2 separate regions of the Homo sapiens genome follow, and region 2 is linked to region 1. Evidence: fine-mapped expression QTL. A gene starts in region 1. The other region holds a variant in brackets. All regions are shown on one strand. Distances are between the middles of the regions.

Evidence for each region.
Region 2: its variant is fine-mapped to the expression of SUCO in esophagus mucosa (GTEx, PIP above 0.99).

What each region holds. Positions count from the first base shown.
Region 1 is chr1:172,526,329-172,542,490 of GRCh38, reverse strand. SUCO (SUN domain containing ossification factor) reads right to left here and starts at 9,341. Exons shown (of 24, transcript NM_014283.5): 1 at 8,994-9,341. The coding sequence starts at 9,055. RefSeq lists enhancers at 8,953-9,112, 9,723-9,972, 10,033-10,142 and a silencer at 9,233-9,402.
Region 2 is chr1:172,488,524-172,504,685 of GRCh38, reverse strand. No RefSeq gene overlaps it. Among named protein-coding and RNA genes, the nearest start is that of SUCO, 37 kb to the left of the region's middle. RefSeq lists enhancers at 4,763-5,057, 6,719-7,219, 7,220-7,720. The variant C/T (reference allele first, on the strand shown) is at 8,733.

The DNA.
Region 1 (16,162 bases):
TGAGGTCAGGGTCCTAACAGACCACGGAGCAGTACTGGTCCGCAGCCCAGGGGCTGGGGACCTCTGCTTTACGAGGATAACTCCAGCCAACTTTTTTTCTTTTTTTTTGAGACGGAGTTTCGCTCTTGTTGACCAGGCTGGAGTGCAATGGCACGATCTTGGTTCACCGCAACCTCCGTCTCCTAGGTTCAAGTGATTCTCCTGCCTCAGCCTCCCAAGTAGGTGGGATTACAGGCATGCGCTACCATGCCCGGCTAATTTTCTATTTTTTTTAGTAGAGACGGGGTTTCTCCATGTTGGTCAGGCTGGTCTCGAACTCCTGACCTCAGGTGATCCGCCTGCCTCGACCTCCCAAAGTGCTGGGATTACAGGCATAAGCCACCGTGCCTGGCACTCCAGGCCAAATTTTATCTGCATTCAAGTCTGCATTTTTAAGTGCCCATAAAATGTCTCCACTTGGATATTCCATTCACCTCCAACTAACAGCTCCTTCCCCTTCCAAGCCCTTTGCCAACTCTTCCACTTCTTTTTGACCACCACCAATTCTTCTAGTTGCCCAAGTTAAAACAAACAAGCAAACAAACAGAAAACAAACAAAAAATGCTTAACATTTCTTTTCTCATTGAACTTTATTTCACAGATTCATAATTTTAGGCCCTAGAATGTACTCTCAGTGACAGTGTGCTCCAAGAAAGCAGTTACTTTGTTTTGTCCACCAGAATCCTGTATAGGATACAGCACACTGAAGCCTAAGTAAATATCTCTTTGCATTGAGATGGACAACAGAAAGGGGATGTTGAACAGAGTTTGGTTAGAGGCAAACTAAAATCCAGTTATTTAGAATCCTAGCCTAATGCTGTTATCTGCTGCACTGCACTGCACTACTGCCAGCTTGCCAACCTTTCACAAAATTAAATCATTTACCTCCTCAAAAATCTCTATTTATTGTACCCTGTTCTTTATTTCTACTGCCAAGATGAAGTCCTTCTTATGACAAGCCTCAATTACTCCAAGGGCTTTTTAGCCCGGTCATCCCTTGGGATCCAGAAGGGGTTGGATCCAGGATCCGAAGATACCAAAATCTGAGAATGCTCCAGTCTCTTACATAAAATGGCATTTGCATATCACCTATGCATATCCTCCCATATAAATATCTAGAGGTGATTTAAAATATCTAGAGATGATTTAAAACATCTATGCATATCCTTCCATATAAGTATCTAGAGGTGATTTAAAATATCTAGAGGTGATTTAAAACATCTATGCATATCCTCCCATATAATATCTAGAGGTGATTTAAAACCTAACACTATGTAAATGCTATGTAAATAGCTGTTATACAACATTGTTTTTATTTGTATTTTTATTGTTGTATTGTTATTTTTATTGTTTTTAAAATATATTTTCAACCTGAGGTTGGTTGAATCTGTGGATGTGGAAAGCCAATTGTATTCACCCCTCTAAGTCTCCTTCCTCTAAAAACAAATCTAGCACAATTATGTCAAAATAATGTTCTCACAACACCACTTTTCTTGCTGAATCTTTATTATCTAATTCTTTGGACTGGTTTGCAAAATCTACCACAATCTCTGAAATCTCTCTCTTTCTCCTCAGGCTTTTCTGTTTACTACCACTCTTACCCATATCAACTAGATTATCTCTTCCATTCATAACTCTCTTTCTCCTTGACAATTAAGTGCCATCTACCCACTGCAAGCAGGCAGACAGACATACACATGCACACACAAAGAAATAGCCATTATTCATGTTATCAACACCAGTACATCTTATTTCAGCTCATGAAGCTCCTGTTTGCACAGAAGCAGAGTTTATAAACCACACATTTCCCTTAAACCCAAGTCAAGCCTTCCTTGAGAACTCTAGCCCTCATTTTCTCCTCTTAAGCACTTACTATGCAGTTCAGTTTTATGTGTTGTTTATTAACATTCAAATCAAGTATCTTAGAATGTTAGACATATAAAAAATAAACTGAGTTCACCTAATACAGTAATACAGACTTGAATGCATAAAAGAGTATCACAAACTTACTGACAAAATCTACAAGGTAAGAATCCTAGGTATGCGTATTTCTTTTAAAAGTTTCATGAACAATTCCAATGTCCATTCCTTCCTAGGCTAATACAGGCACCCACATTTTCAGATGAAAAAAACTGACACTTTGCCAGATAAAATTATTAACTAGAAAAAGTGAAGAAACTTGCCCAAGACCATCTACCAGCCAACTGGCAGCACAGCATACCGGTTAAGAGAACACAGGCTTAGAACCTGGCCTTCTTAGTTCTGGCTCTGTTGCTTCCTGGCTGTAAGAACTTGGGCAAGCTGTTAAGAACTTAACTTCTTTGTGCCCACCTTTCTTCATCTTTAAAATGGAGTGTCTGCCTTAAAACATCTATACAGAGAATAAAATAATTTAATGCATATTACACTGAATAGTATTTAGTACTTAGAAGAGAAATAATCACTCAATAAATGTTCATATTAACAATGAAAAGAAAGAACTACAACCAAGCTCTGACATAGTTTTATGCCTTTCACACTACACCACTATCTGTATTGTAACAAGCAGCTTATATACAGAGCTCAAGTCTCACAATTCTTCTGTATCCTTCATCACACCAAATACATTGTGAATAATCAAATAATATTTAAGTGGATTTATAAATTCCCATTTTTAACTCTGAAACCTAGGCCATCTTATTTCTACTCAACAAATTACCAAAGTAGCTAGAGTCAATGAATAACTCATACAGTAGTGCTTACTACGAGTGAGGCACTGTTCTTAGCCTTTACATGTTTTTTCTCCAGTAGATTACAAACGCTACATAATAATACAAAATTAGCTTAGTACCTATGAACCGTATTAATGTTACAGAATACTTTCTGATACAGCCAGGTGTCACTTTCATGTAAAATATAAAATAATTTTAACTAGCAATTAATTATAAAGTCCTAAAACCAAATCTTCTTTCAAAAAAACTTGCATTTATTAAACAAATTCATCCCAAAGGATTAACACTCTTATACTGCAAATATTCAAAAGCAATTTCCTATTCCCTTGTGACATGTACAATTTGACTTTTAAATTAGTCTAAAATATGGCCTTGAAAAACATAACATACAACTGGCACTAAAGTATAATCTAAAACATGTAGATAAGTTTCAAGAGATTTCATCTCTTTCCAGTTATGTATAAACTACTAAACAAAAGCATCACGTACATACAGGTGTTTCTATTTGAAGATGACTTGAGAATAATAAAGCACTTAAATTTTTATAAGTTTCCCTTTCATTATAAGCATAAGAATATTAATTATACATATTGATTCTTTTCTCCATTCAGACTGTTGAGAAAAGTGAAAGAGTGATGTACAAGTTCATGAACAAACGAAAAATGAAATAACCAATACTCAAAAGAGCTGATACCTTTTATTTTTTCCATTGCCTGTCAACCCTACTGCCTGCTTCCATTCCAGTATATCCTCAAATGTTTAATAACATAAAGGACCAACATGAAACACGTCATTTGCCGTCTTTTATTGGACACAGTGTTCAAGTGTTATGCAAAGATGTCACACACCTTCTTTCACAGACCTTTTCCTATTAAGTGGCTTCATCTAACTTGTCTGAAGGGATCTGACACTGTATGACCCGACACCTCTTATAAATAAAAATACCAGGTGCTTTCTTCAGAATATATATCCTAGAGCAAAGATAAACTTTTTTTCCTCAGTCTTTCACATTAAGTTCCACTAAAAAAATCATTTTTGTAAAGGTCATCTTTCATTGGTTTATTCAAGGAAAGAAAAAAAAGGCATCAAATGATTTGGAGAAGTGGGATTGTTTTATTATTTTATTTATTTCAAATATTATTCAGAAAAGAAATAGATTCCGTACCTTGAAAGTTTAGAGACAGAAGCAGAAACAAGCAAAAAAATTCCTCCAGATTTCCTGGGGAATTTTCAAAATGTTTTATCGATATGTTTCCAATATGCTCTATTCATCACCTCAAAAAAGAAAAAACAGCTTATATATTGTTCTAGTTTTTAAATTTTTTTCTGCTCACTTATGTATATTAATAGACCAGCAATCATGAGAGAAAAAGCAAAAGGGTACAGAAATGTAATCACAAACCAGGAAATAAACCTCTTAAACTGATAAAAACTGGTCTGACATACTCAGAAAAATTACTACTAAGGACAAAAAGGCCAACATCTTGATTTAGATATCAACTCTCTTCTAGTGGGACCACGACTTAGGACCTCGTGCCTCCAAAGTACGTCCCCTACATTCCACTTTACCCTCCACAGCAATCTAATTAAAAGATCCATGTGACCTCATGCTCCTGTTCTCCAGTTTAAACCACTTCACTTACTCATCCTCTGTCAGGTGGTTAGAATTAGAATTCATCTGCATGATAATCAAATCCTTTCAAAACCTAGCTCTAGCCTCCCTTCCCATCTCTCCTCACATACACTCACGCTCTAGATAACTGGGTAAGTGTTCTCTCTGCCTACAACAAAATTCGCTCATTGTGAACTATCCATCCTGCAGACCATTTTATGGATGAGAGCTGAGGTTCACAGAAGTAACTTGTCCAAAGACATACAGTTAGTGACAGAACCACAAGTAGGATATGAATTCTTCCTTTGCTGTTCCTAAAAACCTTTGTAAGTACCTGTTATATTTGCCAAATGTATGAGACTTGTTTAAATGTCAAGCTCTTCCCGAAAGTCTAAATATAAGCTTCTCCAAGATGATCCTTTGGGGTGAAGGAAGAATAGATTTGTTTAGTTTTAAAAAATAAGTTTTACTAAGATTAATGTAAGGATTCATACAGAAACCCAGGGAAAGAGTGGAAGTCCCACAAACAATGGGTTTTACTTACAGCACACCATGATTCACTGTGGTTTATGTTTCCCCAGTTAGGTAGACTTAGGAATTATTCAGTTTTAACTGAATTGACCCTCACAACATCGGGAAGCAGCTTTTAAAAAAATTACTGCAAAGAATTTAATAATGCAAGCACAGCCAACAAGAAAATGACAGGGCTGACTCCTAAGTAGTTGAAGCTATTCCTCTTCTATACTATGACATAAAATAATCTAGTAGGTCAATCACATAGCTCTCACTAAAAATTATTATTTTAATGAGAACAAAAGGTACCGTTAACAGAAATTATTATTTTTTTCTCATTTTTCTTAAATATCTAACTTGCATTAATTACATACACTAATATACTATTACTATATTGGCACATGTACATAACTTATAGACAATTAAGGTGGATGCACAAGGTTTTACTAATTAAGGGACACACTCAGAATATCCACTAATTATGTTTTTTTCCTCTTTAGGGTGATGCAGCTTTCCCAGTTTGCCCAGGACTGAGGGAGTATGGTATAGGGTATAGGCTGAATAATGCGCCCCCCTCAAAGATGTCTGCATCCTAATCCCTAAATATGTTACCTTACATAGTAAAAGAGATTTTGCAGATGTGATTAAATTAAGGATTATGAGATAGGGAGATTATCCTGGAATGTCTGGCTGGACCCAATGTAATCACAATAGTCCTTATAAGAGGAAGAGGCAGGAGGACCAGTCATTAGTAGACATAAGGACTGAAAAAAGGGTTGGAGTGCTGATGTGAGGAAGGGGCCACAGAATACAGGTGGCCTCTAGAAAAAGATTCTCCCCTCAGAGCCTCCAAAAAGAACGAGCCCAGTTGACATCTTAACTTTATTTAGCCCTGTGAGACATATCTTGGACTTCTCATCCACAGAATTGTAAGGTAATAAATGTGTGTTGTTCAAGCCACTAAATTTGTGTCAATTTGCTACAGCAGGCATAAGAAACTAATGCAGGGAATTCCTAGGTTATGCGACTTCCAGTGTTAAAACCAAGACAAGCTGGTGACCCTCTATCTTGGATTTTCGGTGCTCATAAAAACATCTGGCACAGTAGGTATGAGAACAAAATGTGGTTGAATAATGTTATGATGAAATATTTACATAATACGCTGTTACTGTGTTACAAAGATCTGTCATTTGTATTATTTCATCCTCCTAACAACCCTGTGAAGTATGAATGGATCAATTTCCCCATTCTGAGGATATAACAACTAAGGTTCAAAGAAGTTACATAACAAGTCAAAGAACACATATCTAGTAAATGATGGAGCCACATATATAAAATACAGGCCTCTGACCTATAAAGTACTCAGGAGCCTGTGCTGCCTAGGTTCAAATTTAAGCTCCGAAGCTTAACAGCTGCTTAAACTTAGCCAAGTTAACCTCTCTACTTCCTCACATGTAAAATGCAAAAGGAAGTTAATAATAATACCTATCTTATAGGGTTCTTATAAAGATTAAAGGTGTTATTGTCAAGTAAACATCATGTGTCTGACACACAGCTGTCAGCAAATATTAGCTATCATTGCTCTGTGCTGCAGCTATAGTGCATTTATGCCTAGAATACTCTATACTACTTGATCAAAAATTATAAACTATGCAAAAGGAAAAAACAGCAACAAAAATTAATAATGACATAGATGAAATGGTTTTTCTGTAAACATAATCTAAGGTTAGTACTCAAGGCTACAAGACAAAAGCAGAGGGGAGACATAATCAAGATCTACAAAATTATGATAGTAAACATAACACAGTAATATTGGTAGCATGAGAGGGGAAACCTCAGAAACTAGAATACTGTAGAACAGACATACAGCACTCAATGTACAAAACAGAAACGGATCACAAAATTTTGAGACAATTTGTGAATAACAAAAGAGACAAAAGTGGCTACTAAAAGGCACTCATCAACTCTTGCAAACGTTTTATCTAACCCTAGGACTTGTTGGTAGCCATTTCTGTTAAAGGGAATGAGGTTGTTGGGAAAAGAAATACCACACCAGATTGCAGCAAAAGTTAGAAATCCATTAAGTGCCATTAATTCCAACTTGGCACAAAAGCAGAGGCTTCAAAGAAAAAACATACCCTTTGCCAATCAGCACCAGGTACCACTCCTCTTCCCCAATCTCATTCATCATCATCACCCTTTAAAAAACCCTTTAAGCCTTAATGTCCTATTTTAATGCCTTTTAATCGTTTTGCTAAAGAATAATTAAAATGTCTCTAAATTTGGCAGTCTAAACAAATCTCAAAATATACTAACCCAATAGTTTCTTAAGCTAAAGTTTCTTAAAATGTTCACACTCTTAAACTCTCCACATCCATTTTCCTCACTAGGAGTTAAAAAACTTGACAGAAGTTTATTACTACTACTTTCAATACCAGGCCAACCGATTTGTTCCCTAACAGGGAAATTCATTAGCTCTTCACTAGAGCTAATGATTGAAGGTGAGAAAACATACTGAGGGTTAGCTTAATCAAAAGATAGCCAGAAATTCCCAAAAGAAATAGAAGCAGAGTTAACTTAAATTTACAAATGATTGTAAGAATCACATTCTATTGCTTGATTTCGTTTACACCATCCAATTAAAAAATTAAAAAAAGCCAGAGATACTGGTGTGTTTTTAAACTTGAATGAAAGTGTTCACCTTTTCCTTATTAGCCATTTCAGAAACTTTTGATGATGAATAACATGGTTTAAAGATGGGCAAGACCAAGAAGAAAGAGGAAAGAAAATACACAGTCTACAAATATAACTAGGCAGCCCCAGAAAGAGATGGAAATGAATACAAGCTTCAGTATCTACAAATTTAAATTTAAAATGAGGTGAGTGGATTTATCTCTTACAGGCACTTCTCCGTACCCAACACAGTAAGTAGAAAGGGGAGGATTTTATTAAAAACAGGAGACGGGTATTAAAAGGATTCAGAATGAAAGGTAATAAGTCAATTGTTTTTGTTCTCAAAAACTTCTATCATTCTTCCAATAAAAATCCCTCAGCCAGGCGAGTGTTTTCTCTTCCCCTTGTTTATGTATTATTTTATGTGAGCAACAACTCTACAATTTCAGTGCTTCTGGAATCCATAAGGCATCCATAAAAATGAAAATAGTGTTGGTGCTTTGCAGAAATAAGCAAAACAGGAAACTTAATTTCTATTTTAATATAACAAACAGCAAATCGCCTAGACTGAAGAAGCATCTTTTCAGTCATCAATTGTCACACATCTTTGAAGAAATTCCCTGGGAGGAAAGAATGGCTTTTCCAAGTACGGTGACAGCAGTCCCTCGACTTACAAGCTTTCTCTGCTCCTCAAAAAACTCCAGAAGTGCCTGGGATTAACAGAAACTCCGTAAAACTTAAGGAGTGCTTTAGGGACAAAGCACTCTTCCCGCCTTGAAAATACAGCATTTACCTTCCCGTCACTAAGGGGCATTACCAAAAACTACTACACACACTACATCTAAGACACCCTCTCCACCAAACCAATTGAAAAAGTGCTTCATAACACACATACACACACGCCCCCCAAGTTTCCAAAAACAGCGGCCCGAGTGTACTTGGGATCAAACGCTGTGCGAGAAATGTCCAGGAGAACTACTGCTTATACATTACTCTTACCTTCATGACCACTCACGTTTTAAAATCGCACGTCCGGAACGCATCACATCCGACGTGCTTTATCCCCTTACCACACTAAGAACGCAAAGACTGGCGGCAAATCGGAGCAACTTACTTACCATCAATCTGAACACCCACCCCAAACCCTGCACCGTCTCCAAGGGGTAGAGGAACTGAGTACAAAGGCACTTGGTGGTTCCCTCTACCTTGGCACCTCTCTCTCTCCCACTGAGTCTCTGTAAATTCCAAAATACACCATGAAAATCTCCGCACAGAGCACTACCAGACCAGTCAGATGGAGAGTCGAGAAGTAATCGGTTTGTCCCTTCCACGGGGGCCTTGGAAACCCGGACCCTAAAAGCCAAAATGACCAGGGGGTGTGACCTGGGCTGCTCCCTCCCATTTACTCCCCTCACGGGAACTCCCTTGTCGTCGCGGCTACTCACCAGACCAGAGAGCACAGAAAGAGGCAGGAGACCAGGGCCAAGGCCCGCCGGTGCTTCTTCATCTTCTCCTCCTTCTTCCCCCTGCCAGAAGGCGGCACATCCTCCCGGCAGCCGCCACTGCCGAGGCCAAGATGGAGGAGCCGGAGCAGGAGCGCGAGAATGTGACCGATAGTCCTAAGGGCTATGGCGCTGGCTGAGCGGCTCCTCAGTGGCTCGCGTCCTGGCAGCCCTCTCTGAGGGCCCCACAGAGGCGCGGACAGGGGCGCTTCACAGGACTCCGGGGACCGCCGCCGCTGCAGCCACCGGCTCGTCCACGCCCGCCTCCTGCAGCCGCCACTGCCGCCCCATATCCTCCCCGCCCGCCGGGGGCCTTGCTCCGTGAGGCCAGCGACCAACGGCCGCCGCGTACTCGCCTCTCAACAGCCAATCGCCGGCGGGGCCGCGACACCTCACACACCGCTGAGCTGGAAAGGGACGCGTCACCCAAGTCCCGCGGCGCCCGCACCCCCACCAGCCTCTGCGCAGGCCACGCCCCCTTCGACGTCGCAGGCGGAGAAGCCGGAGGCAGGAGACCACAAAGCGCAGGAGCAGATGCTCTCGCCGCTCCGCCCGCCCCAGGTCCCGCCCACTTGCTGGCTTGCGTTCAGAAAGCCGGGAGGAGCCCAGTGATCCTCAGCATTTCCCCTTACAGTGGACCGCCCTTCGTCCCTCGCGCGCTGAGTCCGCGCAAGGGCCTTTGGGAGTTGTAGTTTGCCTTCCAGAATTCGTTTTTCTCTTTCCCAGTCCCTCCTAGAATCCATGGTTTTGTTAGAGAAGTCTATAGTTTCGCTGCTCACCACGAGACTGATCAGCTTTGGAACTGTTGCACTGTTTTCCTCTTTTGAGCACAGTTCGTGGAATGGCCTAGAATGACGTGTGTGTTGTGAGGGAAGCTGCACCAAGCCCTTTCCCTGTGGCAATGGACTGCCCCATTGAGCTAGATGTTGATTGGTAGATAGAAAGGGGCGTGCCAAGAATCCTCTCATCTGATTGGTTGCAGCGGAAAACCTTTCGCTTTTTCTTCTCTTCAGCAAGAATTTCGCCGCTTGCCGGGTTCCTCACTTTAAGTGTGCTTCGTTGCTTTTCGTTCTGTTGGTTTCGAACTTTGGGTTCTCTGCGATGGAGTCGGAAGGGAGGAGTTGTCCCCATTAGAGGAGCACCCACAGACGCTCCAAGTCCTGGGGTTCACCTAAAGTGGGGAAGGCAGTCGCTTACACTCACCTAAGAAGAGCAAAAAGTGACCACTTCTCAATACTAAGTAACGGGGCAGCATGCCCATTCCAAGTGTTTACGCCGCTGAGGGGACGGAGGCTGCAATGGTCTGTGCCTTGGAACATGGCATAATGTTTAGTGTGAAAAATGTTTAAAGGACGGGTTACTTATTGTTCATGTGGCCGTAGGGAAAAAACCCTCAGTAAAATGCCCACCTAACGCCTAATTTTGAGCCGCGGAATTTCCTTATGAACCTTCTAAGTTGAATTGGATGTTAATTATAGTCCCAAAGAACTGAATGATTTGATCCGCTCTGTGATTCTTGGATATAAGTCAATTTGATGTTAGAGAAATTATACAAAGGGTGATAATTTTTGTTTTAAAGGAGTTCACCCTGAACTGCCTTTTCTGGCAGTAATTAGGTACAGTTCCACTTATCTGCTGATGCCACTCTTAGTATATGACAATAAAATCCTTTCATCTGTCACCTATTGCGGGAAGCAAGTATTTATCTCACCCAAAAACAGTATCAAATGATTAATATGCAAGTTTAAAAGAAAGTAGGGGCAATGAAAGGGTAGGGATAAATTGACATTCTTTACCATGTTGGACACTCTTTTCCTCTTACTCCAGGAACTTTTATTCAGGATAGGAAACAGCTGAGGTATCCCTCAGCTGATCCTCAGTGCATCACAGCCAAAGAAGTTATATTAGAATACGTGCTTATCTCAAATCTAGGAAGTTATCAAGTTACATCTCCTAACCCTCTCATCCCAAACTCACAAACCCATCCACTTATTTTCCACCAAGTCCCTGCAATGATTTTTTGAAACATGCAAGTACAAATAATTTTACTTTTTTCTTTCTCTTTCATTCCTTCCTTGACTGCCTGCCTGCCTTCCTCCCTTCCTTCCTTCCTTCTCCTGCAGTTGGAGCTTTATTAATACCCCCGTGGTAGGCTTTCCATTCACCTAATTATCATCCAATTATTAGCTTTTACTATTTCAATCTATAAATGTTCTTTTCTCTTTTTGCAGCTTCATTTCCATGGTTTCATGTTAAGGTTTAATCCTTCACTACTCCGAGCTTTTTCCATTTTTCTCTTGAGCAATTTTAATTTTCAACTATACTGTTGACTCCTAAACCTATATCCCATCCTCTTTTCAAGTAGTTGCTGGACATATTATTCTATCACTTCCAATTTTACCTGCACAAAATTGAACTCATTTTCCCCATAAATTAGCTTCTTCACGTGACTTTCTATATTTGTGTTGATTCTTTCCTATTCTAAGACTTCAGATGAAATAAATAGAAGTTCCATAGAGCTGACCTTTAAAGAACTGGTAGACATTTTTCCACATATCTGTTAAATATAATGAGAAAAAGAACAGAGAAAATTTTCTTACAACTCAATAGACAAGTATAAGAAAGTGAGTAATAGTTATATAAAATAAAACTAGTATAGATGAATGTCACCATACTTAAAAGTATAACATATGCCAAAAATGGCAAGAAAGAATATAGAAAAAGAGCATGTATAATGTATAATCTTTCATATATAATATTTAATTATATATATAATCTTTTAAGGCTTAGGCTAAGTAACCACTATCAACCACCCCTTAACTATAATACAGTAATTCTCAACCTGGGGCAGACTTCCCCCCAGGGTGAGATTGGCATTGTGTGAACACATTTTTTGCTTGTCACATTGGAGAAGTACTACTGGCATCTAGTGAGTAGAGGCCAGGGATGCTGTTTCACATCCTACGGTGCACAAGAAAGCCCTCCACAACAAAAATTATTTGGCCAAAAAGTCAAAAGTGCCAAGGTTGAGAAACCCTGCTGTAACAGAATCTCCCAATTCAATAAAATCTATAAAGCACTGACCACACACAGGATAACTCGTTTGCCCTGCAGATCCTTGGATTATTCAGCAAGTCACTAGGGCCTAAACTGCACAATGAACATGAGTTCTCCCATTCCTAAAAGGGTGACTAAACCAGAAACTCTGGGCAGCTCAAGTCCCTGCCTTGATAAAGATCAGATACTCTGTTTGCTTATGGTAAAAGAGAACAAGCAGACCTTAGAAAAGGAACCAACCCCTTCTGGCTATCTCGTTTGTTCTTTATCTCATATACAAATCATATTTAAGACACCCAAGAGAACTGTGTTGTCTAAGATGGTGGTATTTCATGAGCAAGCTTTTATGTATTTTGATTTAGTTGAAAAATTACCTGCTCCTTTCAATATTACAAAATGCTGAGATCCTATATGTCTCCAAAGGATCTTAGAGACCAATGACATTTAGATGCTTCCAGAGTAAAAGTCAGTTAAAACAGAAGTTTCCTGGAAATCAGTCAAAGAAAGGTTGGGGAATGGAAAACAGACAAATGGACAATAAAAGAGACTAAATAAGATGGAAAAATGGTGAATGTGGCAATCAGCACTTAACATTTTAACCGCATAAAAAGTATAAACAGAACTTTTAAAACTGTCCCCCCGATCATCTTCTTTATATATATAAATATGTGTGTAGAATAGCATATACCTTCTTTATTTAGTTACTACCTACCTGAAAAGAGCCTTAACTACTTAGCCTAATCTACCTTAACAGAGCACTGGTAATTTGGCCACTTCAGGAGGTAAAGGTAGAAATCAGAAGAAGACATAGATTGCTTTATTAGTACAGTCTGAGAACTCAGTCTCTTGAGGGCGGGAAGATCTGAGGGCGGGAAGATCACAGAGTGCAATGTTGGCATGCACGGTTCTGTTTTTACTGCAAATAACAAAAGGTAAGATTTCCCTTTTTAAAAATTCTACTTTGTGATCCCAAATTCAGTCTTCTATCACTGCGTTAACATATGTTTATTTTGAAGATACATGAATTGAATAGGCTCATAATGGAATCAACTAGAGGAAGGGAATGATTACATGTGGGTGACAGAGAAGGAGACATCAAAGATGGTCCAATTTCTAAGAACGTATGTGCCATTATATGAGTAGGAAAGTCAGGAGTTGCAGATTTACAATTTAAGAGACTAGTATGGTTTTGGAAGCACAGTATTGAGGTTCTGGTGGAAGTATCTAGCAAGAATTTACAAGTACAAGATTCAAAATAGGGAGAGAAAGTAGCAACTGAAGCAGCATGTTGGGGATTGTAACTGATGCGTCCTTTAGTACCTCCTGTATAACGCTCTCAGATGAAGCTTCCTAAAACATTATCTTCATCATGTCCTTTCTTTGATGCAAAAATCTCCTACAGGTCTGACGTATTTGTGAAATAAAGTCCTGCCTCCTTGGCCTGGCATTCAAAGCTTTCCATAATCAAACCCAGTTGATGTAGTTCAAGCTTTATTTCCCACTGTTTTCTTTCATAACTCAACCTTCTCACCAGACCACACTGTTTATTATGACCTGAAACACCTGTGCCTGCCCTCATGACACTGTTTTTATTTAATAGTCATTTGTCTCCCCAAGCAGTGAATAAATTCCTTATTGCAGAGAGGTCATGTGTTTTATTGATATATATCACACAGTGACTTTTTTTATTACAGAGGCCCAAGAAATAATTTTTTACTTTTTACTTATTTCTTTGTCTAATCACCTTAAATTACAATTTGCCTTATAATTTAAATTCCTAGAAGTAGCAAGCCCTTAGGATGAGAACGTTTTATGCAGTTGACTAGTCTAGAGCACCTAGCCAACTATTTCTTTCTCTATAAATTACCAAATTAGCTTTTTAGCATAACATTATTTGACTTATGTCTGAATAGATTTTCCTAGGTTCTAGTTACCCTAAGTAACCTGGAGAAATAAAGTGTTCAGTAAATATTTATTGAGCCTTTTTTGTATTAAAGATGCTGAGACAGAAATTTGCTCCAGGAAAAGTTTAGCGTTCTAGCAGGGAGTCTTAATCTTCTGAACTGAACCCTTTTGGTAGTCTGGTAAAACCCTTTTCAGAATGTTTATAAAGGTATAAAATAAAACACATAGATTACCAAGGAAACTAATTGTAGGGAAATACAGTTATTAAAATATTACAAAGCAAATTTGTGATCTAATAAGGTGTGCTTTTTCATTAATGCATAAATAACAAGGTCTAACAGCAGGTCTCCTAATGTCAATAATTCCAAAATGGTGATGAGTATAAGAGACATTCCAAGATACCTACAATATGCATAATGTGATATGAAAACATCTGTGATTAATATTGGTGACAAAGTTGTAGATACAGCCAGTACTACCACAGTTTGTTACCTACATTCACAATAAAATCAAATTCTAAATTTCAGTAGAGGTTAGGAGAATGGAGATATAATTATTATTCCCTCCATGGACCTGTGAATTATATACATGGATCCCAACTAAGAAGTCCTGCAAAAGAGCAATGTTTTTTAAACTGTGGGGTCACAATTCATTAGAGAGTCAAGAAATGAATCTTGAGGGAATCCAGCAGCACTTTTTAAAAACTAAAAGACAATAATTTAGAAAATATCAGAGTGTGTCTCAGCAAGAGGAAGTATTTTTGTGGGGCAATCTTATTTCAGTAATATATGTGATGTGTGTATACGTGTGTGTGTACTGTTATATACATATATGCATACTAGGTTGCAATGTAAAATATATGTCTGGGATTTTTTTGTTTTGTTTGTTTTTTGTTTGTTTGTTTGTTTGTTTGTTTTGAGACAGATTCTTGCTCTGTCACCCAGGCTGCAGTGCAGTGGCACGATCTTGGCTCACTGCAACCTCTGCCTCCCAGGTTCAAGCAATTCTCCTGCCTCAGCCTCCGGAGTAGCTGGCAGGAGTAGCTTACAGGTACACATCACCACGCCTGGCAAATTTTTGTATTTTTAGTACAGACAGGGTTTTGCCATGTTGGCCAGGCTGGTCTTGAACTCCTGACCTCAAGTGATCTGCCTGCCTCTACCTCCCAAAGTGCTGGGATTACAGGAGTGAGCCACCACTCCCTGCCAAATATATGTCTTAAAGTGAGTTACAGTCAAAATAATGTGAAAGCCACTGCTCTAGGGGAAATGAAATACATAAGATATATGGAATAAATGCCTCAAATAATATGAATTGTGAGTATCACAAGATTTTAGAGGAAAAGGAAATTACCTTTTTGTGAGGAAATTATCAAAGACTTAAAAGAGGCAGATATAATGTGGTTCTTTAAAAATGAGTATGATTTTCATAGAGATATGAAGAGAAGGTATTTCAGCTATAGGGAACAGTAAGCACTAGAATCGAATTCAAAACTATTTTACAACCCTTATGTGCCTTCTAATTTTGTCTAAAAGTGTCAATAACTTGACACTTATTTGGTATTCTGTGTTTGAAATAGTGAAGGTGAGCTCTAATCAAATAAAATAAACAGGTATTTTTTAAACACATAAAATACTTCACTATAGGTACTGTGGGGATTTTTTTAAAAAGCATTAGAGATATTATTTTCTATGAAACAAAGTATTCAAGAACATTAAAATAACAAAATGTGGTACAAATACAAAGTGATCAAAGTTCAAGATAATTAAGTTGGGGTAAAGATAATATATTCATTGCACACATGCAATTACTTTTACTCACAAAACCCCATAAAACAACAGAAAAGAGTCTGTTTGTTTGTTAATACCCAGGCTGCAAGGATGGGAGATCAGGTGAGAGGGCCATAAGAAAAAAAACTTGAAGCTGGAAAGCAGATAAGTAAGAAATTCTTCCTAACATGATGATTTGCTGATCTGACAAGCCTAGTTTACCACCTTTAATAATCCTGGCATAATTAATAATAGTACCAACTTTTACTTTTGTAGAAGTGGAAAAGATGTGATATTTTTACCCATCATAAGAGTCACGGGGCTGGGCGCGGTGGCTCACGCCTGTAATCCCAGCACTTTGGGAGGCAGAGGCGGGCGGAT
Region 2 (16,162 bases), 38 kb after region 1:
CAGTAATGGAGTGGCTTTGCAGTGACCAAACTTTAGAAGAATGGATGATCTTTTGGATGTGGGCAATAGCTGCTGCAAAGTGGAGAGGTTGTCTGAACTACCTTCTTCTTCCTGATGTTAGATAATACCTTGGTTTACAGTAACTCAATAAGTTTGCAAGAGCCCATTTTATTCCAATGTAACTAAATCTCAACTTGAATTTATGAGCAATAAAGTAATCACATTAATAGAATAAAAGTTATCTCCTCAAAGCTAGCTTTTCAGTTACTATCGATGGACTTACCCCAAAATATCCTCCAGATTTCTATTTGACCCCTTCTACATTACACAGGCTTCAGTATGCAAAGTGATTCCCAAACAGCACACTTCAGGGTCCTGAGCCTGAGCTAACTGTCATCACACTATCCTTTATAGGATTTGTTTTTGTTCTGGTTTCATGATTTGGAAACACGTACTCTGGCTATGTCCATGTGTCAATGACGCTTCTGCAGTTCATTGTCCTGCACACACTCTTGCTCCCTATGTTCCTTGTTCCCATGTGTTCCTTGTCCACATGGAGGGTGGAATAGTATGAGCTGCTGCAGGCAGGTTGGATGGTTTTTTTATTCCCTCAGAAGAAGTGACCTTTGAGTTAGTGTCCTAATGTTCTTATAAAAGGTGCCTTAAATTTGTCTATTGCATTTAGAGGAAACCTCCAGCCATTACCTAGAAGTGCTGAGAAAGGATCACTCAAGTCAGCTTTGTATTAAGGACAGATATAAAAGTGGTAGACCAGAATGAGACATGGAGAAGCTGGTCCTCTATCATGCTGTCCATCTGTTAAAATCCTACTCTTCTCCCAAGATCCTTATCATCCCTAACTAAACCGATTTCCCTCACCTCTGTATTTCTGTACACTTAATACTCTTCTTGTGACATTTACCAAATTAGCTGTGTCACCAATAATTTAGCATTATGTTAATAATCAAGAAAACTTTGCATTTACCTGATGTTTTAAGGTAGATGAAGTTTCACAACACGTACTATTTCATTTGACCCTTACAACTTCTTAGAAAAATTTGTTACCTCTAAAACTTATTTTCTTCCTCTGTAGAAAGGAGTTATTTCACTCTTTCTTAAAAGAATTAGAAAATGTGTTTATTTTGTCATTCTGGGAAAAAAAATACTTATTCAAATTAAGCCTTGCAAAATCACGTAATCAAATAGTGCTCTTAGGGTCATTGTGAGGAGTAAATGAGCTAAGGGATGTGAAAACTGATTTGTGAAATGCAAAGGCACATCCAGATGCAGAACCACAAAGGCCCTAAGGTTTCTGGTGTTTGCGACTGGGTGCCAAAACAGAGATTTGAAGCAATACATGACAGGGAGAAGATTTACCTGTTCGAAATCTTCTAGATTTAGAATCTAGAAGATAGCTGAACCCTAATCTATCAGAAGAGTATCGATATGGCATTTATCTGTATAACTGGTCAAGCTTAGGGGCTGGTGCTCAGGGAAAAATGTCAGTCCTAGTAGGTGTGAAAGTCAATGGAAGGTAGGCAGTAAGTGAAGGCAGGAGTGTGAATAACACCAATGGAAGAGAATGCAGTATGAGAAGAAGCCCAAGAGACCCCTTGGGATGGAGTCTCTTGGGAAAGGAAAGGAGCTGGCTGAGGAGAAGCTGAAATGGCAAGAAAAGCAAAGGAAGAAATTCCAAGTTGGATACTAGATGTCAAATGAAAGGAAATGAAATTTTGGATTAGAAGCTTAAGAGGCCATTGGGAACTTTCAATATTCTAGTGGGTTGAGGAGTGAAAGGGACATGAGAAAATGGAAACAGTTAGTGGAAAGTTTGCACTGCAGGCTGTCCTTTTGAAAAAATTGGTGACGAAAGGAAACAGAAGATTGGATAGTAGCTTTGGGAAGAAAGAAATAGGACCAAGGAAATGAAAGAAAGAATAATATATAAGGCTTAATAATTATTTATGTCAAATATCAAACACATATCACTTATAGTATGCCAGGCACTGTTCTAAGTAGTTTATGAAAATTAATTCCATCCTCATCACTACCCTATGAAACAGTTATTATTATTATCGCCATTTTACAGATGAGGAAACTGAGGCATAGAGTGGTTAAGTAAATTTCCCAAAGCCACATAGCAACAACAGAACTGGTAATTAAACTACAGGCAATCTAGTTCAAGAGTCCAGGTTTTAATTCATTTACCTTTCCTTTTATAATAATTTTGTAGTAGCCAAACCATTGAGGAAGACGTATCAAGACTTTTTCTTATTTTTAATGAGAAAGATTTCAACTCACTTGGATACTAAGAAGAAGCCAGCACCCTAAGAGATGAATAAGAATTTCTGGGTAATAAAGACAATAAGATCCCAGAGCATATGAGTGGCTATGGTGGGAAAGTGTAAATAAAGCAGTTAGTCTTGGGCAAGAATTAGTAATAATTCTCTCTTAAACAGGAGAAAGATGGTGAAAATAGAGATTTAATTCTGAGGTTTTGAGAAGGAAAGTTGAGCAAATTCATCCAAGATGGATGCTAGTAAAGTTTCTGCTGAGAGATATTGGAGGAGTGGTTCAGGGCTTGAGTAGAAAAAGCTGTAGCTTACTAAAATGGAATGAGGAGTCAGCTTTTACCAAATTGCACTGAGAGCTGACTGAGGCCACCTGGTATGATTACTAAACACCTCCTGTATTCAAAGCAATATGCTGGGATCTTAGCCTCCATTTGTCACAGCTTTTAATCAGTTGAGAAAGATATAGAAGAAGCATATAGAAGAAACAATGGAAGACAAGATCAAATATCACTTGTGTGGCTTAATGCTTTTCATGGAGCTCAGAGAAGGGAGCGGTCAGAGGAGTTGGGGAAAGGCTGTAGCTTGAGCTGGTCCTTAAAGATCAGGAGAATTTGGGGGATGGCATTGAAGGCACAATTTTTGGTGGTGGAGAAAGTGAGAGGAATAGAAGAATCGAAGGAAGAGAGGCAGGCATTAAGAGGTACTATTGGGGCCAGGCACAGTGGCCCAGGCTGTGAGGCAGCATTTTGGGAGGCCAAGGCAGGAGCATGGCTGGAGGCCAGGAGTTTGAGACCAGCCTGGGCAACATAGTGAGACCCCCATCTCTTATTTAATAAACAAAAGGAGGCACTCTTGGTAAAAGCACAGGGACTAGGGGCCAGGAGAGCAGTAATAATTCAGGCCAAAAGATAATCCTACCCCGTGACCCACACCTGATTTGGATCCCCTCAGACCCCACCATCAGTCTTCTTAGCTACTTCATCCCTGCCTTGCTTTTCTCCATAGCAATAATCACTTCCTAATACACCATATTAAAATTATGTTATTTATATTTCCTAGAATGTAGGCACTGTGAGGGCAGGAATAATTGTTTGAATCACTAGTGTATCTCCTAGCTCTACATCAAGTTTGACTTATAAAAGGCTCTCAGTAAAGATTTGCTTGAACAAATACAGCAGCAGTGTCAGGGGTTACCTGGGGTCCCTCCAGCATAGGCTCAGGGATTTTTGGCTCACAACGTGCTGTGAAGAAAAGCCTGACCTAGACAGAAGTGACAGCCTGCTTCTCAAACAGAAGCTCTTTAATACCCAGGTGACAATAAAGCTCTCAAAAATTAAAGGCAAGCAAGGATTCCCCTAGAACTGGGGACTGAGGAAGGCTTCCCTGAGGAAGTGGGGGAGAAAGTGTTTAAGAACTGGTAGATTTTAAGCTAATTGATCAGAATGATTTAAGTCCTTACTAAGGGCTTTACAGGGGCTGCATCAGCCCCGCTAAAAGGGACAGTTCGTTCCAGAGTCCTCTCGGGGAAGGAGCATTTCCTCAGATCTTGGTTCAGGTAACAAGGGCCCCTTGTATTTTTACCAGTTCTTAAAGACTGTCCAATAGGGAAAAAATAATTTTTGCTTCACACATTCAAGTTTAAAATTGGCCTCAAAGTAGGAAACAAAGCACATATTGCTCAGAGGCCAAGAGTTACACGTCTGAGCAGTGCCCAGTGATGGAGTTGATCCATGGTTGGTATTGCCATTGTTCAGAAAGCATTCACAGTGATCATGGGTCTGGGTCCTGTGCCCATCTCGAGCTGCCAGTTCCTTCAGGCATTAGCAGAGTCATATAAATGAATCAGCCCCTCTGTGAAGGGGTAATTCCATTTTCCTGTTTGGTAAAATGAGTATGAGAGTCCTCACTTCCTCTCCATAGCCCCACGTCTGCAGAAGGAAGGAGATCTGCTCTCACCTGTGAACACCTTGTGTTCCATAAAAAGAGAACATTTGCTGTTAGTCAGTGGTACTGCTGTTTTGAAAGCCTATTGGCTACTTGTCAGGAGAGGTCATTTGTCAGGAGAGGTGAGGTGGCAATTTTCTGAGAACCTTGGCATATGCCTGCAATTTCCTAGGGAGAGGCCTGTTGGCTTTTAATTTTCTTCCCCCAGAGAAAACCAGAAAGGTCCCCACCCCCCAACTTTGTAAAATACCCAGAAGGAAAGACTCAGTAAGAAGCCTCTGACTGCCTGCTAGGAAAAGGGTAGGCAGATGGGGAAAACCTGGTTATACCTGTCAACCCAGCCTCCTCAGCTGAAGTGGCAGTCATGAAGAGAAATGCCCCTCCCTCCAGCCAGAATACGCTTGGTGGCAATTTCCCATTGAGAAGAGAGGCAGCTGGGGCTTCAGCCAAACTCCCTGAAGCCAGGGCAGCTCTGCAAGAACTGGGTGCCTGCTTGAGCTCTAGTCTCAGTCAGGGTTGATATAACACAGTGCTGGAGGGCTAGACTTTGATACCTGTCTCAGGATGCTCCCTGGCAAAGGCTTGCATGTGTCATTGTCACCTGACTGATGAGTAAGGCGAAAGTGTCAAACTCCAGTCCAGAAGACTGATGTGGCAGTGTTTGGCTGAGGCAGCGCTGGAGAGTCAGTCTAGCCCCAGGATCAACAGAGGGACTTAGGTTTCTCACCCCATTCTCCTCCCACTCTCCCTCACTTCCTCACCTCCTGCAGTAGACACAAACTCTGCTGAAGAGGCAGAATTACATGGTGAGGACTGATCTATACAAACAATACCTGGGTTCCAACCAGCTCCACCACTTGGTAGCTGTTTGTTTTTTGGCAAATTACTTAACTTTTTTTTTTTTTTTGAGACAGAGTCTCACTCTGTCACCCAGGCTGGAGTGCAATGGCGCGATCTCGGCTCACTGTAACATCTGCCTCCTGGGTTCAAGTGATTCTCCTGTCTCAGCCTCCGGAGTAGCTGGGATTACAGGCACCTGCCACCAAGCCCGGCTAATTTTTTTATTTTTAGTAGAGATGGGGTTTCACCATGTTGGCTAGGCTGGTCTCGAACTCCTGACCTCAGGTGATCTGCCCGCCTCGGCCTCCCAATGTGCTGGGATTACAGGCATGAGCCACCGTGCCTGGCCTACTTAAGTTTTATGTGCTTTAATTTCCTTAAATCCATCTGTAATAGAAGGATGAAAATAATGATACCTACTCCAAGTTCTAAGAGAATTAAAACAATGAGCACATGCACAATGAATAGTGCCTGGCACAGGGGCTGTACTCAATAAATGGCAGTATTAGGTAATAACAATGATACTCCTTGCAGCTCTCTGAAGGTTGCAGCTGCAGGCTGAGCCTGGCGGAAGCAGCGTGGAATATCAAGTTGCTAAAGAAAGTTGTTTAGCAACTTTCATGGGCCAACCCTTCCCCTTCCTTGATCTTGAGAAAATTTTAGTACTTTTGTGTCTTTATAAAACTCAGAATTGTTCTCTGACATTGTAGCTATCTCACCTCACCTCACCCAGTTTATAAAGCTACAGTTGCCTTGGCCATACTGCTGCCCACCCCCACAACACACAGACAACACTCCCCAGGAGGCAGGATTCATTTGGTCGCTTTCCTTTTAGCTTCTCTGGCCCTTAAATTATATTTCCAGGGAATTTGGTGAAAAAAATCAATAACCACCCCAAAAACCCAGGTACCAAATCTGTTTTCTCCATCTGTGACTTAGCATCTCAGAAAACGGAGGCCTCCATATGATGTGGCCATGAGGCCAAAAGTTAATTCACATTTCCAGACTGCCCACATTTCTAATAATTCACATTTGCAGCCCTCTGCTGCAAGATTGCCCTGTACCAAGCCCTTTCAAAACCTCTATCACCAGCTTGGGTGAGGGATGGGTTGAAGAATATCATAAAGCAGTGGAAGCAACTTGAGAGCCATGTTCTGCTATGGAGGCTGGGTGCGTAGTAGATATAACAGTTAAAAGTCGACTCCAGTGCTTCTGGGATATCAGTGTGCCTCTAAATCCCCTGGAGAACGCTTTAAAACATAGTATCCTGGGTCTCACCCCAGAGTTGGAGATTCAGTAGATCTGGGATGTAGCCTGAGAAGTTGCATTTATAACAAGTTCCTAAGGAAATGGGGAGGATGCTGCCAGGGGGGCACATTTTGAGAACCACTCATTTACACAAACTCAAGGGGTTCCCCAGCTTCTCTCTAGCCACCCAAAGTCACTGGTTTCTTGTTACTCTTTAATTGTTTTGTGCAGCAGAGCAGCACAGCAAATAACGCTGCCATTAGGAGAGCAGGCTCTGGGGCCAAACTACCGGGGTTTGAATCTTGGCCTTATTTTACAAGCTGTGTGATCCTGGCCAAATTATTTAACCTCTCTGTGCTCCAGATTCCTCACAAAAACACATATTGATATTTTTTGACTGCTTACTATGCACTAGGCATAGTTCCAATGTATTTACTATTAATTTTTTGATTCCTATAAGACTAAGAGGTAGGTGCTATTATCCCCAATTTACAGATGAACGAATTGAGGCACATCGAGGGATAATAATAGTAAACACTTTATTATTGTGTAGATTAAATGATATAATCCATGCTAAATTTTAATTTGAGCTTGTAAGAATGTTATTTACACTTACTACGGAAGCAAAGATTGGAAGGTCCTCTCCTTTCTTTTGAAAACTTTAAGGATTTTTCTAAGAGGATGAACCATTGTACTTCCATCTGAGTCCTATGGACAGGATCTAGCAATCACATCTCATATCCTCTCCCCCATTTAAGTTCTCCCACAAGAGAAGGGTTTCTCCCTTGCAGACTTTCTGTCTCCAGAGAGCTGCCACAGTTCTAAGGGCCCCAGGGCATGTGTGGGTGGAGCAGTGGGAATTGGGGAGGCATCCAGGAGGAAGTCTGCTTGAAAGCAATCGTGTGTGTTTGCCTGGTTAAGCAGGGAGTCCTGTATGAGACCTGACAGGGGCAGCTCACAAGAATGCAGGCAGCTTGCAAGCTCACTAGACCAAAAGAGGAAAGAAGGAGAGGAGAGAAAATGCCCGGAGCCCCAGAGCTGCGCCAGCACATTCCAGCATGGTTGACACTTGCTGATGGCCTTTGTTTTTCTAGCAGAGCTAGCGAGTAGGGGATAGATACCCGGGCATTGCTTTTTCTGACCTTGACACATTTTAAGCTTTCTTTTCCAGATCAGGACAGAAGGCTTTCTAAAGTAAACCTAGGTTGAATGTGAATACTAACTGGTATTTAATCACCATCATTAAATACCATCAGAGGAGTGAAAAACTGCTGTTTAAATCTTTAGAACTTTCTAGCTATAAGTAAAACATTCTGATATGCAGAGAGTCATCATTCAATTCTAACCAGTTATGCTGGCTGCTGAACCTCCTGTCTGTTCCTACACCCTGCCATGTCCTGGGATTAACTAATATCTTCCATGCCCTTGGGATGTCACCTCCCCCAGATGGTTCTTTGATTCCCTTTCCCAACCTTATCTCTCACCGGGGCTGGATTAGGTGCTGATCCCAGATGCTCTAATAGCCCCTGTTCTTACCATATTATTTCATGATGGCTTGTTTAGTTGTCTGCTTCTTCTATTCAACAAGAAGTTGTAAGCTTCTTATTCATTTGATTTCCCAATGCCAAGCACAGTGCCAGGCAGATAATAGGCAACCACTAAATCTCCACTGATAACTATTTTGTGCATACTGTTCTGTAGCAGGACAAGCCACAGACAAAACTCCTCAGACACCAAGTTGAAGAAGGAAGGGGTTTATTTGGCTGGGGGCATCGACAAGACTCCTGTCTCAAGAGCTGAGCTCCCTGAGTGAGCAATTCCTGTCCCTTTTAAGGGCTCACAACTCTAAGGGGGTGCGTGTGAGAGGGTGGTGATCGATTGAGCAAGGAGGGGGTATGTGACTGGGGGCTGCATGCACCAGTAATTAGATCAGAACAAAACAGGATAGGGATTTTCACAGTGCTTTTCTGTACAATGTCTGTAATCTATAGATAACATAACCGATTAGGTCAGGGGTCAATCTTTAACTACCAGGCCCAGGGTGTGGCGCCGGGCTGTCTGCTTGTGGATTTCATTTGTGTCTTTTAGTTTTTACTTTTTCTTTCTCTGGAGGCAGAAATTGGGCATAAGACAATATGAGGGGTGGTCTCCTCCCTTACTCCCACCCAGCCTTTGCTATCCTGCTAAGTTCTGTGGACCCTCCATTCCTCAAAGACCTGATTCCCACACTCACAGAGAACAGTAAAAGCAGAAACTGTGAGGCATTCTGCTTAGTTAGTGGTAAAACCTGGGGTGACAAATGTTTGACATGTTCCAGCTTAAACTAGGGGTAAATGGATTGAGTGAACAAATGGGAGGTGACTGCCCAGTGTGAATTGGTCCAGAGTGATGGATAGATGAGAGGTG[C/T]GTCTAAGCAGAGACAGAAGAGCACAGGCTTACACAGAAGGCCTCAATAATCCACTTGATCCCTTTCTAGATACCTAGTTCCTCCCATGGTAACAATTCTGATGACAGAGCAGATGCTCTGGAAGACCAGCTTTCCAGCAAGCCTTTACCATACTGATGAGGGCATTAGCAATGCCATAGACTGGCTAAGCCTGGTGTTATAGGACTCGCCACCTCCAAGGGGTGAGTTATATTCTGGCCTAAATCTGAGCCTTAAAGATGTGGCTTGGATTCTGCTGGCAGACATACTTCTCTGTACCCACTGCTCAGTCCTCATCATTGCAGACTTTTCTTCTCTCATCAGTTAGTCCCAAATTATATCCTTGGTCATAAGGGAACCAGGAGGAAAAAGTATATGGGTGCAACTTGTTAATGAAGAACCAAATTATGTAAAATATTTTAAAGGGGTTTATTCTGAGTCAAAATGAGTGATGACTGCCCAGGGAGAAACACAAAGCCAAGAAGCCTTGAGTAAGTGGTCCCAAGGCAGTCAGATTACATTTTGGTTTTATATATTTCAGGGAGGCAGGAGTTAAAGGAAAGACATACATCAATACGTGGAAGAGATACATTAGTTCCATCTGAAAAGGCAAGATATCTTGAAGTGGGAAGGGGGGTGCTTATAGGTTACAGGTGAATTTAGAGATGCTTTAATTTATAATTGGTCAAAGGAGTAAGGTTCCATCTACAACTTGAAGTCAATAAAAAGGAATGTGTTAAGTTAAGATTAGGAAGCTCTGTAGCCAGATTGATAGTCTGTAGGCATGACTTAACCCTTGTCTTCTATGACCTTAGTCTTGTGTATACTTTGGTATCTTATTGCCAGCTTGTTTTGTTAGCCTTATGATCTCTGTTTTAACAGTAATGCTGGTCAGTTGTGCCTAAACTCCAAAAGGGAGGGAGCATAACAAGGTAGGTCCAACCTTTCTTGCTGTCATGGACAGGAACTAAGTTTTTAAGATTTCTCTGGGGTCCCCATGGCCAAGAGAGGGTTCAGTTGGTGGAGAACTTAGGATTTTAAGTTTACAAACTGGACGGATACCTCAAAAGGCATCTATTTATAGATCAGTAGGATCCCTTTTTGGTAGGAGACAGGCAATGAAGATAATGTTCAGGGTCTGGAAGGCCTATTAGTTTGCCCTGGGTAGGATACAGTTGGGGCTCAGAAAACAATACCCCAGAATGAAGGCCTCAGAAACAGCCTCAGGAGCCAAAGGTTTTCTTTGACCTGCTGCTGCCCTCTTGTCTCCCAGCCTGCTTTCTCCCCTGAGACTAATCATAGAAACCAGAATCCCTCTTCACCAAGGTGGGTCAGGGACACCAGAGGGCTTTTTCCCTAAAGCTAGCCATAAAAACTAAAAATATTACTCTAACTTTTCCTCTTTCTGCGTAAAAACTGTCCATAAAGAAATTGTCTGACTTACCTTGTTTGACTGTAGGTCATAAGACCCCCGATTGCAGAGAGGGCTCTGCCCCAAACTCAGAAGGAAGGAGTGCATGCTCAGAGGCTAAGAAGAATCAGGCAGAGAGGCCTTGCTGGTTTTCCCCACTCAGTCTGCTAGCATTAGATCATACCTATTTTGTCCAATCATATTTCTACACAGCTCTCCATACTTTGTTGAACTAAGCATAAAAATGAACCATTTCCCCTTTATCTTTCAGTCTTCAGTCTGAAGGCTCCTGAGTATACATGTTAAATAAGTTTACCTGCCTTTTCTCCAATTAATCTGCCTTTTGTGAGTTGATTTTTTTAGTGAATCTCTGGCCCCTACAGTACCTATGCGTACACCTGGTGCAGAGGACCCCATGATTTTAGTGCTGTCCTTGGTGACTGATTGCTGTCTGTCCATAGTTCAACATGTTTCAGATTCTGCCTTTGTTGCTTTTGTGTGCACGTAGTCTTCTTAACATGAATATAGGCTTTTGGTGCTTCCTTTGTATTTTAGCACAGTTATAGGAACTTGGGGTGAAAGGAGGAGGAGAGACAATGCTTATTGAAATTATATAAAAATCAAGAAAGGCATTGGGGACAGAGCTTCAGTCCCGTCTATTGCCTTTCCAATCTAAGACTAAATTTAGTGTTCTGATTTTACTGACTTTATAAACTTCTAAATGAACGTTTGTGCAAAACCTGTATGGTACAGAAACAGGCTACAACAAAAACATGAGTTGTAATCTATTATGAAAGCTCATACATTTTTCCTGAGGATGCTAGGAAGCTCAAGTGTCCACCATCAGGGAGAATCCCCTCTTACCCCCATGTCCCAAACACTCTAAGCCTACAAAGTTAAGCCAGACCAGAGCTACACCCTTATTTTGGAATAAAATTTGGCTCTACCCAAGCATCACCCTTCAGTGAGCAATGGAGGCCAGATTCAGCAAGACAGTACAAGGAAATCTCATCCCTGGGACAAGTTCTTTTTTTTCCCACAAACATTAAAACTAGCTGAGAGATCTGGCATAGCAAAGTGGGTGATCTTTCTAGCATTCAAGAAGAAATAACTAAAGGAAGATAGATTGGTTGTCTTCAAATATTTGAAAATTTGTTGTTACTGGAGGGGAGTGGCTGGCTCTGTATTATTACTACAGGGGAGAAGTAGAAGAGTGGAAGCATAAAGAGGTTGATTTCACCTAGGCATGAGAAACAACTTTCTTTATTTTATTTATTTATTTATTTATTTGAGATGGAGTTTTGTTCTTGTCACCCAGGCTAGAGTGCAATGGTGCAATCTCAGCTCATTGCAACCTCCACCTCCCAGGTTCAAGCAATTCTCCTGCCTCAGCCTCCCAAGTAGGTGGGATTACAGGTGCCCACAACCACGCCTGGCTAATTTTTATATTTTTAGTAGAGATGGGGTTTTGCCATGTTGGCCAGGCTGGTCTCAAACTCCTGACCTCAGGTGATTCACCCACCTTGACCTCCCAAAGTGCTGGGATTACAGACGTGAGCTGTACCCCACCCAGCCAAGAAACAACTTTCTGTCAATTCCAGCTATCTGAAATGCAACAGTCTGCTTTTGGGGGTAATGAGCTTCCTGACACTGAAGGCATTTTCAAAATATTTAATTTACTTTCTTAAATAAGTGATATATACAACACAATGATATTCAAAAGGAACAAAAAGTTATATTATGAAAATTTCACCTCCTTCCCACCTCTTTTTCCTAAACATTTCTTTTTCTTCTGAAGAGACAATCTTTATTACCTGGCATTTGGTCAAAGGCCAGACAACTCTCTGTGAAGAATATTATAAGTGGTCCTCGGCTTCTGGCATTGGACAAAATTACTTCTGGCAACCTTCCAACTCTTGAATCTCCTTCTTTAAATTTGCAGGCTATCATCCTTAAGGTTCTAGAACAAAATACAAATTCACTGTGCAAGGGTTGGGCTGAGGACTTATAACTTGACAGTGGTAATGTTGGGCTAGTTCTAGGCAGCCCTTATGGCAACAGGCAGCTTGCAACATGACACAAGACAAATATCTGAGAGAAAATGAATTTAGACCTCTGGGCAAAGCTTTTAGGAATCCTTTTGCCAAATGTAGTCCTCCCACCCACCCATTTGAAGTCAAAGACAGGAATAGAACTGCAGGGTGATTGGGAAGCAGGAACAAGAGTTGGAGAAGGAGTTTAGGAAGGAAGGGAGAAGACAGGATGGGGATGGAGTGGAATGGAACAGTGATGGTGCTGCCAGAGACTGCTGAAGGTTCTAACAGCGGTGACTGGACAATGGCCTTTCAGATTGCCCTTTGGAAAACCCCACGTGCTCTTCTTGTTCCTTATTCCTGGCTATCTCCTGCCTTCTCCAGATTTCTCAAATGCCTCTAAAGCCCTCTGTCATATTACCTATAAAGCATGATTTATTCCCCTGACACACAGAACCACATGTAACTTCATAAATGGAGTCTCTTTTTTATGTATCTTGGAAAATTCAAAGGCATTTTTTACCCTGGAGGTAATCTCAAGCCTCTGTTTCTGACAGATGAGTTTGGTTGCAGCCTTCAAGGGTATTCAGATCTCACAAATCCAGGTGGCATCTGTCCTATTTCAGGAGCTTGGCTACTTCCACAGCACAAATGGAGGAAAGTGAAAAGGAGAAGGGCTTTCAAGTAGGACTCAAGACTGACCTTCAATAGAAGGTACAAGAGGCCATCTTGCATAGCTCTGGTTCAGCTTTTTAGAGGGAAAACAAATAATAAAATCATTTTATTACCATGATTGTTTCAATGGCCATTATTCATTTTAAAGGCCAAGAAGTCAGTATTTATAAAATGTAAATTGAAGAAAAAAATGTCTAGACATATTTTTGTGTCAGCAATAACAAAGTACATGACAAGCAGAATCAAAAAGTCATGAAGGATTTTCTTATTCAAGACAGTTTTGCAAGATATCTCAAGGAACAGAGTGTTATAGAGTTCTATGCTTGGAAGTGGGTTTGGCGTGAGTTTTATAAGCATCTCCTCACCTGTAAAGCACTTATGAACACTCTGTTCAAGAACCTTGGCCAAGGAGATTTCTGGAAGTAGAGCTGGGCTGGGGCTGGAGTTGTGAGCATTATCCATGTCACTTGAGACAACATTGTGCCATAGAAACACCACGTCTACTGAAGACAATGGTGGTATCAAGGATAAAAGTAATGCTATGAAGAGCTAACATATTTAAGTACCTACCACAGAAACATTTGCTGGGTACTCAGCACATATGGTATGTTCTTAGTTTTGCCTCAACACTCATAAGATAAGGAATCATTGCAACCTTGTTTTGCAGATTAAGAAACTGAGGCTCAGAGAGGTCAAGCTACTTTCCCAAGGTCACATAGCCAGCAAGTGAAGGAGCCAAGGTACAAATGCAGACTTCTTGACTTCTCAGATGCTGCTAACTCCTATGGTAAACTATGAGGAGCCAACCTAGGAGAAAAGAAGAAAACACAATAGAATGATTTCACAGAATGAGCTTAGGTAAGAAGAAAGGGGACAATTAGAAAAGTGAATAGTAGGAAAAACAAGAGTGGGACCAAGTGACATGCAAAAAGTAGACTGTGGTGAGTGATGTGGAACTAAATGTGTAAATGGACAAATAGGCTGAGACCTGCCTTTTATTTGATGTTTGTGTGGTAGAGTCAGTATGAGCCTTAGAGGAACCCTGCTGGCATGGCTATCATCTCGTACCCCCAGCAAGGCTCCCCACTCCAGGACAGGGCAGACCTGGAGAAGGAAGTATATGTGCTTCACGGGTAACCTGGGCCCCAGGTTCAATCCTGCAACCTATAACCAGAACCCCGTGTGTCTGGCTCTGAATCTGTCCAGAGTGTATTGTGAAGAGGATGTATCGGCTTAAAGGAGTCACACTGGGCTGAAAATGTGTATCTCTAAGGAACGTATCACAGCATACTCATCTCAAGCATTCATGTATAGGAAACCCTATTAACTTAGCAGCATGAGAAGTGGAGAAACTTTTATCAAAAACTATGTGAATGATGTAAGTTGTGGGAGAATGGAAATAACTGTCTACTTGTCTTGGTGAACAATGCTTATTGCCAAACTTATGTAAACTAAAAATAAAATCCTAAACCACCCCCCTTCCCCACCAACTGAGCAGCTCCCCTCTTGGTCAAAGGGACCCCAGAGAAACCTTAAAAACTGGGAGTGCCTAAACTCCAAACTGTTGTGCCTAGATTCCAAAAGGGAGAGAGTATAAGGGAGAATCCAACGTGCCTGGTTCTACTCTCTCCCTTTTGGAGTTTAGGTACAACAACTGACCAGCATTAATGTTAAAATAAATATCATCAGACTGACAAAACAAACTGGTAATAAGATACCAAATTACAAACAAGACTAAGGCCATAGAAGGCAAGGGCTAAGTCATGCTTACAAACAATAAATGTTGCCAAACATATCATATTGTGGCTAACTCTGACGTAGCATTCATAACTTAATTCCTTTCTGCTAACTCCAAGCTTTTAGACAAATTTTTGTTCCTTTAATTGCAGATTATAGAATATCTGAATCCACCTATGACTTGTAAGCCCTTGCTTCAAGATATCCCACCTTTTCGGGCTGAACCAATATATACTTTCCAGGTATCGATTTATGCTTTTGCCTGTAACTCCTACTACCTCCTTGAAATGTATAAAACCAATCTGTAATTTAACCACCTCAGGACCAAACTTGTTGGGTTTGTGTTTTTCCTTGGGCTGTGGTCACTCATACTGGCTCAGAATTAATATTTTAAAAATATTTTACAGACTTTAGTTTTTCTATTAACACACACAAAAAGTATTCCTGGTGTATCACAAATAAGCATTTCAGTACAATGATTAGAAATAACCTTCTTTGATCTAATCTCCACTATTACAAAGATCTTAAATTGGTAACTGTGACTTGAGCACATTCAAACCTGGATTTGAGTTTTTCCCTTGTTCAGGAGAACCTCAGCCCTGTTGGAGAGGGTTTATGCATGCTAAGGTTTCTTTCTCCTTTGCTTAGAGGAAGAGGTGCAGCATGCAGAGGAAGGGTCTACATGTACTTCTTCAATTTTTCATACTAGGTTAGAGGCAGAAAATTATTTCAGCCCTTGGTAGTTCCCACAGGACATCACCTATATGCTTTTCTAAGCATGAAGCTTTATTACACTGTCAAATTTCTGTTCCCAAGCCAACTCTGAGTATCCCTACTTCCCTTTGAGGGCTAAATGCATTGAAACCACTCAGTACTGACTTGCTTTTGAATACAGAGAGCCAAGCTCTGGTGTGCTGGAGTTGATTCCTACTGGTTATGAAAGTGATGAAAGTGATTGTTAACTTTTCCAAAATTTTGTGAGTTGGTTGTTAAGCTGTTGGTAGCTTGAAATTGGTCATGCTGGAAGATTTATACCACAGAAATTGGTGAATGGTACAATTGAAGGCACTTAAAAAAAAAAAGGTAAGAGGCCATGATTTAGCTATGCGCAATGGCTCACACCTGTAATCCCAACACTTCGGGAGGCTGAGATGGGCAGATCACCTGAGGTCAGGAGTTTGAGACCAGCCGGGCCAACATTGTGAAACCCTGTCTGTACTAAAAATACAAAAATTAGCCAGGTGTGGTTGTGGGTGCCTGTAATCCCAGCTACTTGGGAGGCTGAGGAAGAAGAATTGCTTGAATCCAGGAGGTGGATGTTGTAGTGAGCCAAGATCACGCCATTGCACTCCAGCCTGGGCGACAAGAGTGAAACTGTCTCAAAAAACAAAAAAAAAACTTGTTGAGAATCTACTAAGCGACAGACCATATAGTAGGTATAAGAGCTATAGAGGTAGATATATGATCTTTGGACTTTGGACTAGAAGAGATTTCATTAACTTTGAAATGTTCCCTGACCATTCTTTTGCCTACTGCTGGGAAAGGTGAATAGCTT